Regions from separate parts of the Homo sapiens genome. Here region 1 is linked to region 2. The links come from fine-mapping of genetic effects on gene expression. A gene starts in region 2. The other region holds a variant in brackets. All regions are shown on one strand. Distances are from middle to middle. Region 1 overlaps ENTPD1 (ectonucleoside triphosphate diphosphohydrolase 1). Region 2 holds the start of TCTN3 (tectonic family member 3).

Region 1 (5,383 bases), 130 kb after region 2:
ACACAGATATAGAATATTGCCTTGCTGTAGAAAGTTCTATTGGACATTGCCACTTTAAAGCATACTCTTGAATGATAACTCTGAAGTCATTCAAAACTAAGTTTAATGAATAGGGTGTATGATAAAACATTTTATAAAATCTAGAATAAGAAACAAAAAAACTTTTTTTCTTGCATGGTTTGTAAACTAGTACCAGGATCATCCCAAATATCATGGGCTACTAAACTGGTTTGAGTAGTTTATTGAAATAAATGTATTTGCTTCCAAAAATGACCATTTAAAAGATAACACTTATTTGGATATTTGTACTGATACATGTTTTTTGTTTGTTTGTTTGTTTTTTGTTTCTTTGTTTGGGGTTTTTGTTTGTTTCTTTTTCAAGATGGAGTCTCGCTCTGTCGCCCAGGCTGGAGTGCAGTGGCACGATCTCGGCTCACTGAAAGCTCCACCTCCTGGGTTCACGTCGTTCTCCTGCCTCAGCCTCCCAAGTAGCTGGGACTACAGGTGCCCGCCATCACGCCCGGCTAATTTTTTTGTATTTTTAGTAGAGACGGGGTTTCACCATGTTAGCCAGGATGGTCTTGATCTCCTGACCTTGTGATCTGCCTGCCTCAGCCTCCCAAAATGCTGGGATTACAGGCGTGAGCCACCGTGCCCGGCTGATACATGTGTTTTGAGAGCACACAATGACATGACTTTATGACCATACTTCATTCAGCAGTTCTTCATTCATTTTTTATAAATTTATGCATCGACAATTATTTATTACACTCCAGTCTGGCTGACAGAGTAAGACTCTGTCTCAAAAAAAGTAAAATAAAAAATATTCATTGTCTGTGTTAGGCACTGGGCTACACAATAGGGAAGGCAGTATATAGATATGACTGAGCTTACCATCTGGGGAAGCAAACATATTTAATAACACAAATTATTAATTGTAATTATGATAAATTGCCACCAAATGAAAGTTTTGGGGCCAGGCAAGTCTTCCCTGAAAAAATGATACTAAAATAATATCTGAAGAATGATTGGAAGTTAGCTGGGAAAGACATAGGTAAAGGGTAGTCCAGGCAGGGCCGAGCACGGTGGCTCATGCCTGTAATCGAAGCAGTTTGGGAGGCCGAGGTGGGCAGATTGCCTGAGCTCAGGAGCTTGAGACCACCCTGGGCAACATGGTGAAACCCAATCTCTACTAAAATACAAAAAATTAGCTTGGTATGGTGGCGCGTACTTGTAATCCTAGCTACTCAGGAAGCTGAGGTGCGAGAATCACTTGGGCCCCAGAGGCGGAGGTTGCAGTGAGCCAAGATCTGCCACTGCACTCTAGCTTGGGCTACAGAGTGAGACGCCAACTCAAAAAAAAAAAAAAAAAAAAAATTCCAGGCAGAAGGAAAGCAGGTGCAAGAGTCCTGAAACAAGAAGGAGTTGGATATCTCCTAGGAACTAGTTGGAGAGCAGGAGTGGGCCACGTGTTATATAAAGATGGGGAGGTACGTGGTGCAGGCCCTGCAAGACAGGTTGAGGATTTCAGTTTTAATCCTAAGAGTAGTGGGAAGCTAGTGGTATGATCAGATTTGTTTTTGCAAAGATCACTCTGATTTCAATGAATTAGAGGAGGATGAGATATAGGAGGATACCAGGAAGAGGCTACAAGAAAAATGTGGAAGGAGGGGGAGCCTTTGGGTTCAATTTTTGAAGAATTGTTTTGAGTGTTGGAAAGCCAATGGGAAATGTCAAGAAAGCAGTTGGATAATCAGATTTGGACCTTTCTTTTCTAAGCAGATATCTACTGCTGTGCTCAATAAAAATATAAAACAAGCCAAATTTTAAATTTTCAAAGAGCTACATTTTAGAAAGTAGAAGAAAAGAGGTGAAATTAATTTTAATAATATAATTTATGTGGCCCAATGCATCCAAAATATTACCTCAACATTTCATCAAAATAAATAATTGTTGGCTGGGCGCGGTGGCTCACACTTGTAATCCCAGCACTTTGGGAGGCTGAGGTGGGTGGATCACGAGGTCAGGAGTTCAAGACCAGCCTGGCCAACATAGTGAAATCCCGTCTCTACTAAAAATACAAAAAAAATTAGCCGGGCGTGGTGGTAGGCACCTATAGTCCCAACTACTTGGGAGGCTGAGGCAGGAGAATCCCTTGAACCTGGGAGGTGAAGGTTGCAGTGAGCCAAGATCACGCCACTACACTCTAGCCTGGGTGACAGAGCAAGACTCTGTCTCAAAAAAAAAAAAATTTCGTTTTTGTTTTGTTTTGTTTTGTTTGTTTTTTGAGACGGAGTTTCGCTCTGTAGCACAGGCTGGAGTGCAGTGGTGCGATCTCAGCTCACTACAACCTCTGCCTCTCGGGTTCAAGCAATTCTCCTGCCTCAGCCTCCTGAGTAGCTGGGACTACAGGCACGTGCCACCATGCCCAGCTAATTTTTGTATTTAGTAGAGACGGGGTTTCACCTTGTTGGCCAGGATGGTCTCCATCTCTTGACCTCATGATCTGCCCACCTTGGCCTCCCAAAGTGTTGGGATTACAGGCATGAGCCACCACCATGCCCGGCCAAAAAAAAATTGTTAATGAGATATGTTACATTCTTTTTTCATACTATCTTCAAATTTTAACTTATGGCATATCTCAATTCCAACTAGTCACATTTCAAGTGCTCAATTGCCAGCTATTTGTTACCCTGGTTAAATAGCACAGGCCTAGATTAAAGCTATGTCTCTGATGGCATTGATTGACTGAAGCCTTAGAAATGGATGAGGTCATCTAGGATGGGGTTATAAAATGAGAAGAGAGTCAAGGTCCAAGTCCTGAGAAGCTCTATCATTTAAAGCAGGGGTCCCCAACCCCCAGGCCATGGACCAGTACAGCAGGAGGTGAGGAACACGCGAGCGAGCAAAGCTTCATCTGTATTTACAGTTGCTCCCCATCGCCCACATTACTGCCTGAGCTCCATCTCCTGTCAGATCAGTGGCAGCATTAGATTCTTATAGGACCGCGAACCCTATTG[T/C]GAACTGCACATATGTAGGATCGGGATTGCGTGCTCCTTGTGAGAATCTAATGCCGGATGATCTGTCACTGTCTCCCGTTACCCCCGTATGGGACTGTCTAGTTGCAGGAAAACAAGCTCAGGCCTCCTATTGATTCTACATTATGGTGAGTTGTGTAATTATTTCATTATGTATTACAATGTAATAAAAATAGAAATAAGGTAGTTCACAATAAGTGTAATGCACTTGAATCATCCCAAAACCATTTCCCCCTCCTCACCACCTCTGGGTCTGTGGAAAAATTGTCCTCCAAGAAACTGGTCCCTGGTGTCAAAAAGGTTGGAGACCACTGATTTAAAGGGTGAATAGGGAAAGAATTCCTCCTAAGGCATAATGATAACATTATTTAGTGCTTTGCAGTTATAAATCATTTCCACATGCATTTCCATTTTTTCTTCCCGTGAATACTGTGAAGAATAGAAGGTTATCCCCATTTTTTTTTTTTTTTTTTGAGACGGAGTTTTGCTCTTGTTGCCCAGGCTGGAGCGCAGTGGCATGATCTCGGCTCACCGCAATCTCTGCCTCCCAGGTTCAAGCAATTCTCCTGCCTCAGCCTGCTGAGTAGCTAGGATTATAGGCACACGCCACCACACCCGGCTAATTTTTGTATTTTTACTAGAGACGGGGTTTCTCCATGTTGGTCAGGCTGGTCTTGAACTCCCGACCTCAGTTGATCTGCCCGCCTCGGCCTCCCAAAGTGCTGGGATTACAGGCATGAGCCATCGCACCTGGCCATGCCCATTTTATAGATAACAAAATCAAAGCCTTAGATGTTCTCTCACCCAAGGCAGAGGGGGAGCTAAAACTAGAATCCAGTTTTCTGATCCAAAGACTAATGTTCTTTCCATTTGTCTTAGTGAGTTTTTCCAAACAGCACATCCTATTAACAGAAATTGCATGCAGGATGTTTATTTTGGGAAGTGATTCCAAGGAAACAAGGAAGAAGGGAAAGAGAGAGTTAGGAGCAAATTACCACATTGGGCCACTGAGGCTTGATCCTCCCAGGGACCCTCTCAAGAGCTGTGGAGAGTGAACTTTAGAATTGTCTGCCCTGGGGATTTATCCCCTGGTTCTCATTATCTGTTGGTCAAGGGTTGCTCCCATCTGGTGTTAAGTCCCTGTCACTTCCAGGTTTGCACGTGTGTCAGAGGGGTCATGTGGGTACCACAGGTGACAACTTAGGCAGCAGGAGAGAAGCTGCTGGGCAGAAATAGAGAGATAAGGAGATACTGCTGGGGCTGGAGTAAAAAGTTGGCCAAGATGTAAAATGGTCACAAGAGGTATCTGAAGTATCATTGCACCTCCTGATTTTTGTGGAGGTGAGGGTTCTTCGTACAAATAATTTCAATATAATAGAGATATATTCATGCAGAGACAGTGCTATGGAAGCCCAGAGAAAGAAGCTGCTAATTGTGCCTGTTTACATGGAGGCTTCACAGAGAAGGTAGCCTTGGAGCTGAGTCTTAAGTGCTATGGCTTGAATGTTTGATCCCTCCAAAACTCATGTTGAAACTTAATCCCCAGTATAATAGTATTAAGAGGCAGGGCCTTTAAGAGGTGGTGGGTCATGAGGGCTCTGACCTCATGAATGGATTAATCCATTCATGGATAAATGGATTGAGTTATCACAGGGTGGGTTAGTTATTATTAGAGTAGGTCTGTATTAAAAGCTAGTTTGGCTCTCAGTATGCCCCCTTTGCCATGTGATGCCCTGTGCCACCTCGGGACTCTGCAGAGAGTCCCCACCAGCAAGAAGGCCCTCCTGAGATGTTGCCTCTTGACCTTGGACTTCATAGCTTCTAGAACTGTAAGAAATACATTTATTTTTTAAATAAATTACCCAGTATCAAGTATTCAGTGATAGCAACAGAGAATGGACTAAGACAAATGGTAAGGAGTTTTCTAGAAAGTGGGATAGGACATGTTCCAGACAAAGATTATATCATGTGTTGAAGAGTGACAGCTTGAAATCATATGCAATCCCTGGGGAATCAGCAGCTCAGTATGGTTAGATTGTTGAATATGGGGGCAGGAAGGAGAGGTGGAAGAGGAGGTCCAAGTCTGAGCTTAGTATTTTTGGCTTAAAAGTGGGCATCTCATCCATTAAACTGCAGTGGTGTTCAAGCTTGGATCCATGTTAGAAGCACCTGAGGAGCTTTTCAAAAATATGGCTGGGCCCCATCTCAGGTCAATTAAATCATCTTTGGAGGTTACAGTTAAATAAAAATGGTTCAAAATATTGTAGATCACCGGGCGTGGTGGCTCACTCCTGTAATCCCAGCATTTTGGGAGGCTGAGGCCGGCAGATCACTTGAGGTCAGGA
Region 2 (5,383 bases):
ATGTTATGGAAAGATTTATCTAGTGAAATGATTCTCCACAACTGTGTATACTGTGTGTAGATGCTATGTGTGTATATGTGAGGAAGGTAGGTAAATAATCAGAACCAAAGGGAAATTTTTGCCTTTTTCATACTAAACATGAATGTACACCCCACCCTCGTTCAGGAAAAAGTTCATTGATGTAATGAACCATAACTACTATTGGAAGTGGCCATATTCCTCCCTCAGGTGTTTAAAGAAAGTTCAGATCCACTGATCCCGAAGGAGTGTGCAGGATGGTGTCGGGGGCAGGAGTGGGGATCAAAAGCAGGGAGCACCAGGTAGGTGCCATTGCAATAACCCTGGAGCATGATCATAAGGCTGGATTTAAAAGGCAGTAAAATGTTTGGAAAAGAAGAGACAACTTTCTTTTTTTGAGACAGACTCTCGTTCTGTTACCCAGGTTGGAGTGCAGTGGTGCAATCTCAGCCTCCCAGGCTCACATGATTCTCCTGCCTCAGCCTCCCAACTAGCTGAGATTACAGGTGCCCACTACCATGCCTGGATAATTTTTTGTTTTTTTAGTAGAGACAGGGTTTCACCATGTTGGTTAGGCTGGTCTCAAACTCCTGACCTCAAGTGATCTGCCCACCTCAGCCTCCCAAGTGCTAAGATTACAGGAGTGAGCCACCGCGTCAGGCCACAACCTTATCTGAAAATGAAGTATTCATCTTGTTCCCTTTACCCTATTACCATCTAAATAACCACAAGGCTTCTGATAACTGCTTTGAAATTCAAGTCCCCCAAAACCAAAAACTGGTTGTTTTCTGAGACAAATATAGTTTTGCAATTCTTATTAACAGTCAGATGAAATCAGGATGAGGTGACTTCCAGGATGCAAGAGACATTTAAATCCATTTTGTGCAGGAACATTATTTTGCTTCATAGACATTTTAAAAAGATAGATTAGCTTCATATCTTTAGAAATGTTATAGCCATCACCAGCAAATTTCTAAGTCCACTAACCATCCCCAATAATAATAACCTCTAATCTTTATTGTACTCTACAGTTGTAGAGCGCTTTCATATACAAAGCCAATGATATTATTTCTCACTTTACAGTTGAAGAAACGAGCCTGGAAATGCTAAGGGATTTGCCCAAGTCTGTATAGCTGGTAAGGAAATGGCAGGACTGAGATCCTAATCTAATGCTCCTCCTACACTGTTGCCTCATGAAATGAAAATAAGGTTGGCATAGACTCATTTGTCAAAGATGTTCATTCAAACATTATTTGGTGCTTACTATGTGTTAGGCACTGGGGATTCAGTTAGTACCCTCATGGAGATTGTAGTAAGTGGGGAATATAGTCTATCTGTGATTATCTGAGTTAAGAGGAATGATTAAAATGATTGAAATTAAAGTTCTTTATGAGTTTTCTGATCCATAGCCAACAGAACATAAAAAGTTGCAAATGTGGCCAGGCGCGGTGGCTCACACCTGTAATCCCAGCACTTTGGGGGTCGAGGTGGGTGGCCCATGAGGTCAAGAGATCAAGACCATCCTGGCCAACATTGCAAAACCCCGTCTCTACTAAAAATACAAAAATTAGCTGGTCATGGTGGCACACACCCATAGTCCCAGCTACTCGGGAAGCTAAGGCAGGAGAATCACTTTAATCCGGGAGGTGGAGGTTGCAGTGAGCTGAGATCGTGCCACTGCACTGCACTCCTGGCGATAGGTGGAGGCTCCGTCTCAAAAAAAAACAAAAATGCAAATGTATTCCGTAATAAGAGAGAAGAGGCAGAAAGAGGCGTAGAGATTCAAAGGACAAAAAAAAAAAAAGTTTAAAAAAAAGAAATGGAAAAAAGGCCAGAATAAAAGCCAATTCTCAATAAATGTTAGACCAAGCTTGTCCAACCTGCAACCCACCGGCCGCATGCAGCCCAGGACGGCTTATGAATGCAGCCCAACAACACAAATTTGTAAACTTTCTTAAAACATTTGACATTTTTTTTGCTTTTTTTTTGTTGTTGTTTTTAACTCATCAGCTATCGTTAGTGTATTTTACGTGTGGCCCAAGACAATTCTTCTTCCAATGTGGGCCAGGGAAGACAAAATATAACACTCCTGTGTTAGAAAATGAGAACAACCAACATGTTTCTACTCACAGTTGTTCACATGGACACAAAACTGCCTGATTCCATTAGAATCCATGAAAACTCTTGAAGGAAACGGGGAATTACTCCTGAAGATAACAGAGTTGTCTACACAAACCCAGCTTGAAGACCTGTGAGGAAAGAGGAGGGAGAAGATATATTTAGAAGGGGCGGGGCAGGTCCAAAAAAGAGTGTCCCAGCAATATCGGCCAGATGATGCCAAAGAGGACTCCTTGGGCACCTATAGGACGACACGAAGGTCTTATTCTACTGGCCAGCCCTGCTCTAGAGAATCAGAAAAGGCAATTCCTAGGAAAAACCAAGGGAATGTCCTAGGAGTGGAAGTACGGGTGGGAGGCACAAAGACTAACTCTTCTTACATCCAAATGTTACCCGTTGTAGGCCCCAAACCCCTTTAGGATTCAGTCTGAGCAACGAAGCTCACCTTACGCTGCCTGGAAGGCAGAAGGAGAAAACTGTCCTCGGATGGAGAAGATAGCAGTCCCTGTCGCAGCAGCAATTTATATCGCAGGCTCCAGGAGTCAAGTCACAGACACAGATCGGTAAGACTATGAAAGTACGACACAGAGTGAGTGGGATGAAGATCCCCAAACTCTCCCAGGTGCTCACCCTCCTTCTTCCGACAGCCCCACTCCTGCTTTGTGGCAGCTCAACTTTGCTCACAGAATTTTAGATCTCAGAAGTAAGTTTCCACCCCCACAACGTTTTCCCTCACCTGGGAAGAGGTCCACAGTCCTATTCCCAGGGGCCGAGGGAGTCACGAGAGTAGGGACCACTGTAGGGAGTCCAGGCACGGCCGGGCGAGTTGCAGTCGCCTCTGAAGGGGACTGGAGGGTTCCGCCATCCGTCCCTCGCTGCAGCTCCAAAGACGTGGGCACTGCCCCTGATGGGGAGGAAGAGGGCTGAGGCCGGACGCCATCGGGGAACACCAGAAAGAACACTTGCAGGAGCGCGAGCTGTGGGGTGCGCATGGGGCATTCAGGGCCTCCGGGTCCGACGTAGGCCTCCGCGGTCTCCAATCGCATTGCCAGAGCGTGGGTGGGAGGAGTCGCATAGCGTCTGACGCCATCCGCGTGCCTCTTCTCATTGGCTCATGAGAAGGCTGAGAGCTCTTCAACCAATCGAAAGTGGGGTTGTTACAGCTCTTTCAGTGTCCTTCGGTCTGCGCCCTCCTCCTTAACGCGGGCCGGGCCGTGCCTCCGTTGCCTGGCAACCGTCAGTGACGAAGAAGCCCTTGCGCCTTCCTTCCGCTAGGTGGCGGTAGGAGTTCGGCGGACCGAGAGGTTCCGCGCCCACTTCGCGGCCCAGAGGACTGAGCCCGGCCTCCGGTGCAAGGAAACCCCAGAGGCCGGAACTAGAATTGCAAATTTTTTTTCACCCCGGATTCCAACGGTGAGAAACCCTTTCTATGGAAGAATAATGTTCTCAGGTGGGGGAAACACACCTAAGGTCACATACCTTAAAAAACAGTCTCCTCTAAATATGGCTTTTTTAAAAAAAAAAAAAACACATTAGAAATAATGTTCATTCAGCTCCTTACATTTTAACATTGAGAAATTTTGAAAACCCTAAAGAAATGCATCAAATCATTAAAGATGGACTGCATGTTTGTTGTTAGAAAAAGCAGTGAGAGAAAAATAAGAAAAAAGGGCAGGAAAAATGTGAGAAAATAGGGAGAGAAAGAATAAAAAAAAGAAACATTGTCTAGGAGGTGAGAAAATAAGATGGAGGAATGGAAATAGAAGATTTTTTTCCCCGTGTTAATGGCAAATTTTTTAAGCCTCTCTAGGAGGTTTTTGTTCTTCCCGGGAATGGCGTGCCTCTTCCGATTCCCCACAGCAGCGCGGGCCATGGGACTTTCCTTCGGTATTGGAAATGTACCGTAGCTGCACTGTCCAGCATGGTAGTCACCGGCCTTATGTGGCAATTGTGCGCTTGAAATGTGGCTAGCGTGACTGAGGAGCTGATTTTTTTTTTTTTTTTTTTTTTTGAGACGGTGTTTCGCTCTGTCGCTCAGGCTGGAGTGCAGTGGTGTGATCTCAGCTCACTGCAACCTCTGCCTCTAGGATTCAGGTGATTCTTCTGTTTCAGCCTCCTGAGTAGCTGGGATGACAGGCACGCGCCACCACGCCCGGCTAATTTTATTTTTATTTTTAGTAGAGATGGGGTTTCACCATGTTGTCCAGGCTGGTCTCGAATTCCTGACCTCAAGTGACCCTCCCGCCTTGGCCTCCTAAAGTGCTGGGATTACAGCTGTGAGTCGCTGTGCCTGGCCTGAATTTTTAATTTTTAAATTGTAATTAATTCAAAGTTAACCACAGACGTGAGTAGCTACCATATTGTACAGTGGGACTGTAGATGATCAAAATATTGCTCCTCCTAGACCCAGTATTTTCCTATGTCCACGGTTCTGACATCTGGATTATTTTGGATATTTAGTTTTAGTATATAAATTAACATCTGTTAAGAGTTATCTAAAATCTAGTACACTTACCTAAAATCTGGTCAACACCTCCCTTTACAAGTGAATCATTTAACTCAGGTAAGTTTTAGGACATTTGACTTTACTTGAATTCTCTTACAAGATCTTTATTTTCTAATGTTTTGAAGTCAGTAGCTAAAAGTCTCTCTGTGTTATAAATATTTTCAAATATGTTTTTATGTTGTTGTGTGATAGACAGCTATGGGAGATATGTGTTTGGTCTTAAAACATTTATTTACCTTATTAGTAATTTCTATAGGAAAAGGCCAAGTTCATATTATTCAGATTATATGATCATATGTATATACTAGAATGTAAATTCCAAAAATAGTGAGTTTTGTCTGTTTTGTTCATTGAAATATCCCCATGCCTAGAACAGTGTCTGGGACATGTTAGATGTGCATTAAATATTTTAAAAATATATTAAAAATTGTTTTGTTGAACTCTTTAGAATTAATCCTTAGGAATATTTTTAGTTTATTTTATTTCAGGATTGTATTTCTTTCTATAAAATTTCTTCTTTTTGCAACCAATTTACCATGTAATGATCTTTCTATAAAATTTCCATTGTACATCTGATCAGAGACTATTTTAGATTTCAAAGTTTGGAATTTAAATGGCAACTCTCAAATAGTGTTAAATTATTTCTGAATTTATTAGCGTTGGCAAAAGACTGTTGGTTGAAGTAATTTTAGAGATGAGTGATAAGGAAGTAATGTTTCCGGATCTTTTTGAGTTGCTTTT

What was found. PIP is the estimated chance that this variant, and not a neighbour inherited with it, causes the effect.
Region 1: its variant is the best candidate, but not a certain one, in a credible set for the expression of TCTN3 in whole blood (INTERVAL, PIP 0.65).

What each region holds. Positions count from the first base shown.
Region 1 is chr10:95,825,217-95,830,599 of GRCh38, forward strand. The region is part of intron 2 of ENTPD1 (ectonucleoside triphosphate diphosphohydrolase 1); the gene reads left to right. The region is part of intron 4 of ENTPD1-AS1 (ENTPD1 antisense RNA 1); the gene reads right to left. Among named protein-coding and RNA genes, the nearest start is that of ENTPD1, 72 kb to the left of the region's middle. The variant T/C (reference allele first, on the strand shown) is at 3,021.
Region 2 is chr10:95,690,772-95,696,154 of GRCh38, forward strand. TCTN3 (tectonic family member 3) reads right to left here and starts at 3,156. Exons shown (of 14, transcript NM_015631.6): 1 at 2,873-3,156; 2 at 2,582-2,705; 3 at 2,149-2,267. The coding sequence starts at 3,128. It also overlaps a transcript of ENTPD1 not described here. RefSeq lists enhancers at 2,861-3,140, 3,615-4,116.